Linked DNA regions of Homo sapiens: region 2 is linked to region 1. Evidence: fine-mapped expression QTL. Tissue or cell type: whole blood. Region 1 holds a variant in brackets; the other region holds the start of a gene. All regions are shown on one strand. Distances are between the middles of the regions.

Region 1 (5,147 bases):
TGGTAATTATTAGCACTTGCTATGTGCAGGTTGTCCATGCATCATCTCATTTTATTCTCATGAGATTCCAAAATAGAGTGCCACTGTCCTGCTAACGCTTGAGGAAAGTGGGGCCCAGAGCAGCGAAGCCACTGCCCAGGCTCACAGCGGCGAGAAGCGAAGGAGCCAGGGCGGGACTGAGCCCAGGCACGGTCCTGACCCGCTGCCTCTGAACCTGGTCAGGGCTTCATCCCTTCCTGCTGGAGAAATCGCTGCCAAAGCCTGCTCACACAGCCCCTGGGCGGCGGAGGCGAGGTGAAGCCAGTCAGCCTTTCTCCGAGACTTCCAACTCACCGGGCCTGGAGCTCGTCCCCTTCTCAGCCCAGCGCTGAGCCCCCAAGACTTGGCTCCCGGCTACCACATCTGCTTGGAGAAGAAATGGGTGTGGCCCAAAGAGCAGATTTATGTTGTCCTCAGCGCCTTGGGCTCCATCCCAGCTGCACAGAATTGGATGGATGACAAGGATAAATGTGTTTGGCTCCGGGCTCAGTCACTGAGGATTTATTTAGCACCTGCAATAATAAAAAAATCACAATGCTGCAGCGCTCCAGGCACCACATGGGCATGCGGGGGAAACGGGAGTCTGTAGGGGGGAAGACACTCACCTGCCTGCTCTCTAGCTGCTTGCAATCTGGCTGTGGGAGAGAGATGAATCCCGCGGCATCTCAGAGGAGGAGGGAGGTGGGATGTATTTGAGATGAGGAGCCTGAGAGGTTAAGTACTTTGTTTGAGGTTACACAGCTAATGAGGAACCAAACGAGAGCTGCCGATTTATTGACACTTATCATGAGTTTTCGTTGTTGCAAACATACGTGAAAAAATAAAATTTAAAAGCACAGCTAAGCAACGCAGGAGAAAAAAATCACCCCAAATCCCACCACCCAGAGTTAGCCACCAACACCCTCACCTCCATGCGTTTTCTTTCCTTGTGCAGATATGCATGGACATGTCTACAGTGTGTATGCCCTTAGTTTACGAAGCTGGATACTGCACAGTATACCGCTCAGGAAACTGCTTATCTCCTTTCAGATGCAGATCAGCTATTTTTTTTCTTTTTTAGAGACAGGGTCCTTGCTATAGTGCCCAGGCTGGTTTTGAACTCCTAGGCTGAAGCAGTGCTCCCACCTCAGCCTCCCAAAGTGTGGGATTACAGGCAGTAGCCACCAGCCCACCCTGCATCAGCTATTTAAATGGCTCCCAGCTGCGGCTGTGGAGTTCAGCAGGGGCTGCTGTCAGGCAGGGAGAAGGGGGAGTTTCCAGGATAATTCTCTCTCCTAGAGGCAGCGCTGGGCTCCTGGAAGGAGGAGAACCTCCAAACCAGGCCTCAGGAGGCAGGTGGGAGGATAGGCGGGCGGCAAGCGACATCCAGAAGGAAAAGCTGGGCCTGGTGAGACAAGTGTTGGGGGGCTGAAGAAAAGAGAGACTGAAGGGAGCCATTTCAGGTCTGGGGGGGGCCAGGGGGTAGCAGAATGTAGAAAAGGGTATGCTTTGGGGTTCCTCTAAAAGATGGGAGGAGCTGGCAAGCCCTGGCCTTAAGGAAAGGAAAAGTCCCATCTCTGGGTTCTTTAGCTAACAAAAGCCACTGACCCCTGTAGCTTCCCCATGCCTGTTCAGAAGGTGCTTCAGCCAGTAAAAAGGCAAAAAAGCAGCGTTTTCCCAAATGTGTCCCTGGAAAGACAAATCCCATAAAAGGATTCACCAGAAAAAAGGCTTAAAAAAAAGTTTGAGAAATGAGATGTACAGTCATTTCATCTCAGAGAATCGCAACACACAGAAACTTACCTGCAGCCCTGAGAAGTAAGAGATCCGCAGAACCTGGGTTTCCCAAGTTTATTTTCTCGGGTAGCTCTCACTGCCTAAGGAATTTCCCTTGTGCTCCCGCCCAGTGATGTTGGAGAAGACACCGCAGAGCCACTGGGCTGGGCATCTCCCTCAACAAGGCAGCCTCCTTAAGATCACAGGAAAGCCCCAGGCCTCACGGCAGGTTTACACCCTGTGTGCCCCGGCAGCCCTGTGAAAGGGCAGAAGTCAGTGATCCCAAGGTCTCTTCCAGCTCCAGCACTCTATCCTGTTTCTGCAGCTCATGCCCAATCAAATCTCACTTCAGGGGAATATCCATGGAGTGTGGTGGCCTGGGGCAGTTGTATTTGCTGGATAAATTCACTTATTTAATTCAACAAATATTTCTTGAATCCTTACTATGTGCCAGATACTGTTCTAGGCATTGGGGATTCCAAAGTCAGTAAAATAAAATCTGGGGGAAACAGACTACAGACAAATGTAATAACTATATCATGTATATGTCAGCTAAGGACTTTGGAGAGAAATAAAGTATGGTAAACAAAAAGTGTGGGGTGGCAAGGCTGAGAGAGGGATACTCTGTTAGATAAAGTGATCCGGGAAGGCTTTTCTAAAGAGGTGACTTGTGAGCAGAGACTAGCAGGAAGTGAGGGATAAAGCCATGCGGAGATCCCAGGGCTGAGCGTTCAGGCAGAAGAAACAGCAAGGGCAAACATTCTGAGGCAGGAACAAGGAGGCACACGAGGGGAACATTGTGGCTCAAGGGAATAAAAGAGGGGGAGCGTGTTAGGAGATGAGGTCAGAGAGTGAGTGGGGGCCAGATCTCCTAGGACTGGAAGGCCAAGATAAGAACTTCGGATATTTATTCAGAGATGAGAAGCCAGTGGAGGGGTTGAGGAGGGGCATAATGTGAGGTACAAGGAAGAATTTCTGCTTTCTAATAGGGATAAACAGTTTTCTAAATAGGGAGAGCCTACCCTCTGCCTTGGAACTTATGAAAAGAAGTTGAATTTTCATTTGATGGTTGAAGATCTTGCAAGGCCTTGGTACTGGTCATCCATCGTTGTACAGACACTTACTCAGTACTCCAAGCTCCCACCTGCCATGGTGGCAAGGAATTTGATCTCAGTCATATTTCAAGAGGCAGGTCTTCTTTTCACCCATGGCTACACGTGAGTCCAGCAACTTACAGGTGCCTGGGAAGGGAAGGGTCTCTGGTCTCCAGTCCATCATGGATAATGCAACTTTATGTTCATGGTCCAAGTCCATTGGTCTTTTCAAAGGCAAGCAGCTCTATCCTCCATAACCAACAGGGCTTCCAAGATCCTTC[C/T]CTTGGGTCCAGGACCATAGCTCTAAGAACTCAGTCTCCTGGTATCTACTCACCACCCACTGGCAGTCGGGCATTGGTGGATGCTGCATGCATGAGTAAGGCACCGTCACCTTTCCTCAAGCCTCTTATAATCTTTGGTCCAACAGACAAGTACACCAGCGTTTATGGTTGGGGAGGCTGGGCTCTGCTGGGGCAGTGGGATAGAACATAGTGCTGTTTTCCCTATGAGAAATAAGCCAAAGTAGGATACACAACTCCATGTCTTAAGTGTTTTTATTATTTATTTATTTATTTATTATTATTATTATTATTTTTTTATTTTATTTTTTTTTGAGACAGAGTCTCGCTCTGTTCCCAGGCTGGAGTGCAGTGGTGCGATCTCGGCTCACTGCAAGCTCCGCCTCCCAGGTTTACGCCATTCTCCTGACTCAGCCTCCCAAGTAGCTGGGACTACAGGCGCCCGCCACCACGCCCAGCTAATTTTGTTTTTGTATTTTTAGTACTGATGGGGTTTCACCGTGTTAGCCAGGATGGTCTTGATCTCCTGATCTTGTGATCCACCCACCTCAGCCTCCCAAAATGCTGGGATTACAGGCGTGAGCCACTGCGCCCGGTCCTATTTTTTATTTTTTGAGATGGAATCTCACTCTGTCATCTCGGCTTACTGCAACCTCCATTTCCCAGGCTCAAGTGGTCCTCCTGCCTCAGCCTCTCAAGTAGCTGGGACTACAGACATGTGCTACCATGCCTGGCTAATTTTTTTTGTATTTTTGGTAGACACGGGGTTTCACCATATTGCTCAGGCTGGTCTCGAACCCCTGACCTCAAGTGATTCGCCTTCCTTAGCCTCCCAAAGTGCTGGGATTACAGGTGTCAGCCACCGTACCCGGCCTTAAGATTTTTTTAGAAAGATAACTTGAAACTCTGGGTGATGGGAATCAGGCAGGGGCAGGTTCCGACTGAGCCCTGAAACCTCACCTGGACCCTCCACTCCGCCTGGGAGGAAGACCCAGGTCACCTTAGTCAGGAAGCAGGAATGCCGCAATGACCTGCCGCAGTGGAGATTTGTCCTCTTCTGTGTACAACATTTTTCAGTAAAGGGTACGGTGTCAGCTGGCAGCATTGCTGCAGCACTAATGAAGTTTAGGAAGTGCTTAGCTGAAAAGGGCATGGGTGGGGTAATTGAATTGGTGTCAGACACATAATGGCTTTGAGAGTCTTTTCTCCCTCATTTGATAAGAAGAGCCCTTTCCCTCACATCCTCCGTAAAAGCTCAAGGAGAAAAGGATGTTCACCCAGCTATACATCAATCCTGTCTATTGACTACGAGTTTTGGGAAATCATATGGAGAAGCATACTTTTTACGAAGGCTTTGGGGACTGTTAATAGCAGGCTGGGCAAAGCACAGGAAGAGGCTACGAATGAGTGTTTTCCACAGGACGCTGCCAGGTGATAAAATATTAAAACCATTACCAACACTCCCACTTCAAGGAATGGTCTTAATGATTCTGTCAGATATCTGGGTCCTGTGGTCAAATGGACAGTGAGCTTTTTGGGCCTCATCAAAAAATAGCTTACTGGGTGCCAGGTCCTGTGCTAAACGCTTACACGTTGTCTCCTTTCATCTTCACAACAACCCAAGAGGGAGGAGCTATTGTTATCCCCATTTCACATATGCAAAAACTGAGGCTTGCCCAAAACCACACAGTTCTGATGTGGCAAAGCTTGGCTTGAAATCTAAGATTGGGATTCCAAAGCCAATGCTTTCCTTCTTTACTTCCCTGATTAAAAAACGTAAAGGTGGCCTGGCGCGGTGGCTCATGCCTGTAACCCCAACACTTTGGGATGCGGAGGCAGGCGGATCACCTGTGGTCAGGAGATCAAGACCAGCCTGGCCAACATGGTGAAACCCTGTCTCTACTAAAAATACAAAAAAATTAGCTGGCCATGGTGGCGGGTGCCTATAATCCCAGCTACT
Region 2 (5,147 bases), 68 kb before region 1:
AAAATATCTATTCAAATATTTTCTTCTAGTTCATGGCTTTTCTTTTTCTTTTTCTTTTTTTTTTTTTTTTTTGAGATGGAGTTATGCTCTGTTGCCCAGGCTGGAGTGCAGTGGCATGATTTTGGCTCACTGCAACCTTTGCCTCCTGGATTTAAGCAATTCTCCTGCCTCAGCCTCCCAAGTAGCTGGGATTGCAGGTGCCCGCCACCACGCCCAGCTAATTTTTGTATTTAGTAGAGATGGGGTTTCACCATGTTGGCGAGGCTGGTCTCAAACTCCTGACCTCAGGTGATCCACTCGCCTCAGTCTCCCAAAGTGCTGGAATTACAGGCGTGAGCCACTGCGCCCGGCCCTTTTGCTTTATTTTCTACTTTTTTTTTAATTGCTTGTTGCCTAAGACAGACCAAGATTTTTTGTTTTTGTTTTCTTCTTCTTTTTTTTTTTTTTTTTTTTTTAGATAGGGTCTGGCTGTCACCCAGGCTGTAGCGTAGTAGCGCAATCTCAGCTCACTGCAAATTCTGCCTCCTGGGCTCAAACCATCTTCCCACCTCTGCCTCCCAAGTAGCTGGGACTATATGCACAGCTAATTTTTGTATTTTTTGTAGAGATGGGGTTTCACCATCTGGCCTAGGCTGGTCTTGAACTCCTGAGCTCAAGCGATCCACCCACCTTGGTCTCCCAAAGTGCTGGGATTACAGATGTGAGCCATTGTCCCAGTCTAGATTTTTTGTTTCAATACATGAACTAAAAGCTTTAAATTTCTATTATGTCAACTATCAATTTTTTCTTTTATAGATCACGATTTTAGCGTCATATCTAAGCAAACTTTGCTTAACTTAATATCAAAAGATTTTCCTCTTTTTCTTCTGAAATTTATAGTTTTAGCTTTTATATTTAGGTCTATGATCCACTTAAATCAATTTTTATGTGTGATGTGAGGTAAGAATCAAAGTTCTTTTTTTTCCCTCCCACATCATTCATTGAAAAGATTACCCTTTCCCCATGGATTGTTTTAGCACCATTGTTGAAAATCAACTGACCATAATGTAAAGGTTTATTTGTGGACTATTTGATTCCATTGATCGATATATCTGCCTCTATGCCAGTATTACAGTCTTCATTACTGTAGCTTTATAATAAGTTTTGAATTCAGGTAGTGGAAGTTCTCCATCTTTTTCTGTTTCGAAATCCTTTTATTCTGGTTCCTTTTCATTTCATATAAATTTTAGGGCCAAACTTGCCAATTTTTTTTTTTTTTTTTTGAGACAGAGTCTTGCTCTCACCAGGCTGGAGTGCAGTGGCACGATCTCTGTCACTGCAACCTCTGCTTCCCGGGTTCAAGCGATTCTCCTGCCTCAGCTTCCTGAGTGGCTGGGATTACAGGCGCGTGCCAACACGCCCAGCTAATTTTTGTATTTTTAGTAGAGACGGGGTTTTGCCATGTTGGTCAGCCTTGTCTTGAACTCCTGATCTCAGGTGATTTGCCCTCCTTGGCCTCCCCAAGTGCTGGGATTACAGGCGTGAGCCACCGCGCCCGGAATAATGTTCTTTCTTTAAAAATACAAATTAGCAATCCCCTTAATTCCACAAAGAGGAAAAGTAAAAGAACACAGAAATGCTTGAGTTCAATTTGCTGAGACCAATAAAATGCACTTTCAAGAAAACTGCACAGCACTAGCATTGGAGGCCACAAAAATAAGATACGGACTCTATACTCAAGGAATTTATGAACAAATAAATTTTTCTGCTGGCTGAGGTACTTCTCTGACTGTTAAAGCAGGTAAAACGAAGAAATGTTCCTCCGAGACTTCCTACCTATTCTAACCTCTCAAACTTCTAATTGCAACAATGGCAGCTTTATTTTTATCTTAATATTTATGTGTTGAGGGTTCCATATAAGATTAGATTTGAATAAAGCACTGTATGCCTTTAAAAAGGTTTGAAAATCACTGGTCTAATAAAAGAACAGTGAAAACTGACAGGCAGCTATATTATAAAAAGAATACTGGATTGAGGGTTCATGATGACTGTTTTATTCTAGTTGTTGAACATGTACAGCCATGTCGAAGGAAAAGTTCTATTTCTCACCTCTCATAAAGGATGGCATTTTAAAGGTGAATTTTAATGTCATTCATCTAATAAATATTTGTTGCATGCAATAAGCACAATGTTATTCATATATTCATAGTAAAGTAATAGGGAGAAAGGAAGTACGGAATATCCTGAGGATATCAGCTGTCATCAGAGATGTAACAAGCTGGGTCTCAGAGCACAAGTTTGCCAATTGATTAAAAAGGAAAAAAAATGAGGCATCGTAGATAGAATCATAGGTCCAGAAGAACAGAATTAGAAATAGCTACCACTGAATGAACATTTCCTCCATGCATAGACTTTTATCCTCACCACACCTATGGAGATAGAAGTTATTATCCCCATGCAGACAGGGGTATGCCAAAATCACAAAACTCGTGAGTGGCAGCGCCACGTTTGAAACTGGGGTTGTCTGATTTCAAAGCCAAGGCTCTGGGTTCACAGAAGTACATGTACTTAAGAGGTGTGAAGCAACATGGGACTACTGGAAGGAGGCGGTGAGCCACGAGGCTGGAAATGCAGGCACCTGCTCTCGCTCACTTGACCATAGAGCAACTTGGGCAAAGAAGGGGTGGGCTGACATTGGAGTATGGAACAAACGCATGATTTCAAATAAGCATGTGTGTATCCATCCCAGTTCTGTCCGCTGAAAAGGCCTAGAAGCAATAACACACCAAGCCCTGTCGAATGGTGGGGTCCGCCAGGACCTCCAGGCTTGCTCCCCGCCCTACCCGCCAGCTTCTCCGCCACATTCCACTGCCGCAGCAGAACCGGTGTCCTTCACCTGCCTGCGTCTTCTGCAGTTCGTTAAGCAGCGCCCTTAGCTCCTGTGACACTTTAGGGAGAAAGCCGCAGCACCGGCGATGTTGGCCGCCATTAACGCCCGGCAAAGCGCCCGGAACTAGAAGCAGCGAAGAACCCGGGTGGGCAGCGACCGTGACAGCCGAGCCGGAAGCGGAGCTGCGGGAGGGGCCTCGACGCTCCTCCATCTTTTATTGGAGCTCACCGCTGCCAGTCGCGCTGCCTGCCCGTCCCACCCTTTTCGTGCAGGCATTCAGCTAAATGACGGGCGGAGCCCGGCGGCGGCTTCCGGTCGGGGGAAAAAAGTTGGGCCGAAGGAGGGGCCGGGAAGACGCAAGAGGAAGAAGAGAAAACGGCCGGGCGGCGGTGGCTGTAGGTTGTGCGGCTGCAGCGGCTCTTCCCTGGGCGGACGATGGACAGCCAGGGCAGGAAGGTGGTGGTGTGCGACAACGGCACCGGGGTAAGGGCCGCGCGAGGAGGCCTTGGCGGCCACAGACGCCGGCGGGGACGAGCAGCTGGCGCACGGGCCCTCGGCCCCCAGGGCTGCACCTCCGGGCCCTCGGGGCGAAGGGGCGCGGGGCGGTGCCTCCCACCTCCGCGGGCGTGGGAGCGAGCCGGCCGTTCCCTGGTCTCCCTTGAGCCTGCCACCCATTTAGCCTGCCACCCCCTCACCCTTCCGGGTGGGGGCGGCGGGCGAGACCGGCACTGGACATGGAGCCTACTGACCGCCCGGCAGGGACCTGCTCCGCGCTAATGCGGGGGCAATTGGGCTAAAGCGGACGGAAGCGTAAAAGGCTCGGTTTGTGTGTTCCGAGAAGGGCTCTTTTCCCCAGGGCCACCGGTTTGTAAAAAGGAGAAAGACCTAGAGGCCTTCCTCTTCCTGTATAGTTGAAGATACACCAAACGAGAAGCAGGAAGCGGGTTTACTTAAAAAAAAAAAAAAAAAAAGGGAAGTGCTGTCATGGAGTGTGGACCTCAGCCCTTTCGCTGTGTTTGTTGGGCTTTTTATTAGTTTTTTCGAGGGAAGGGGTCCAGATCGGCAGCGCATCGTTCACTTTTTGTTTTACATACTAGTATTTGGCCCAGGAGTAGGCCCACGGAGACCAGCATGTTCCATTGAGTGGTTTTGGGTGACCTAGGATCCCGCAAGACTCAAGTGTTAATTCCACTAGCCTTAGGGGAAGTTAATTAGTGTTGATTATCCCACCCCCAGCCCCCTTTTTTCCCTTCGTTTCAGTATACAGGTAATGTTAGCCTTTAAGATTCAAAAATTGTAAAATCTGACTAAAGCACTGATTTAGAAACTATTTGAAAATTGTTTCTGTAATCCCAGCACTTTGGGAGGCCCAGGCGGGCAGATCACCAGAGGTTAGGAGTTCGAGACCAGCCCAGCCAACGTGGTGAAACCCCGGTCTCTACTAAAAATACAAAAATTAGCCGGCCGTGGTGGTGCTTGCCTGTAATCCCAGCTACTTGGGAGGCTGAGGCAGGAGAATCCCTTGAAGCCAGGAAGCGGAGGTTGCAGTGAGCCGAGATTGCGCCACTGCACTCCAGCCTGGGCGACAAGAGTGAAACTCCGTCTCAATTATAAAAAAAAAAAATTGTTTCATTCAGACCTCCCTCTTGCCAGATTAAAAAAAAATGTATTTTGGGTAGCAAAGTCAGCAAATTAGAAGATGGAAATATTATTTATTCTGGATGACTTCTATAGTGATTTCTAACCATTTTGATGTTGCAACATTTTGTGAGTTTTCTCCCCTCCCTCCCATAAATATGATGTATGAATTAAAGTTCATTTTACTTGAACAAAACACTTTGGAATCTGAATTGTTGAGGGGGAAAAGAGCTGGTATTTACTGCCATAATACTGCCCTTGATTAGATTTGTTACACAATTTTACAAGCAATAATTATGGTAGCTTCATCTGAACTGTGTTAAAAATGGACTAGAGTAAAAAGAGTGTTAACGTACATTGAGGCCAGGCGCGGTGGCTCATGCCTGTAATCCCAGCACTTTGGGAGGTCTAGGCGGGCGGATCACCTGAAGTCAGGAGTTTGAGACCAGGCTGGCCAACATAGTGAAACCCCGTCTCTACTAAAAATACAAAAATTAGCCGGGCATGGTGGTGGGCGTCTGTAATCCCAGCTACTCGGTAGGCTGAGGCAGGAGAATCGCTTGAACCCGGTAGGCGGAGGTTGCAGTGAGCCGAGATCGCACCACTCCAGCCTGGGCGACAGAGCAAGACTCCGTCTCAA

Evidence for each region. PIP is the estimated chance that this variant, and not a neighbour inherited with it, causes the effect.
Region 2: it holds the start of ACTR2, and the variant in region 1 is fine-mapped to the expression of ACTR2 in whole blood (INTERVAL, PIP 0.95).

The regions. Positions count from the first base shown.
Region 1 is chr2:65,292,311-65,297,457 of GRCh38, forward strand. LOC124907781 (a long non-coding RNA gene) reads right to left here and starts at 3,473. Exons shown (of 2, transcript XR_007086472.1): 1 at 645-3,473; 2 at 1-551. RefSeq lists a silencer at 3,480-3,662. The variant C/T (reference allele first, on the strand shown) is at 3,170.
Region 2 is chr2:65,224,606-65,229,752 of GRCh38, forward strand. It overlaps ACTR2 (actin related protein 2), which reads left to right and starts at 3,226. Exons shown (of 9, transcript NM_005722.4): 1 at 3,226-3,352. The coding sequence starts at 3,305. LOC124907779 (a long non-coding RNA gene) reads right to left here and starts at 2,994. Exons shown (of 2, transcript XR_007086461.1): 1 at 2,876-2,994. RefSeq lists enhancers at 2,217-3,106, 3,107-3,995, 4,068-4,157 and a silencer at 3,378-3,567.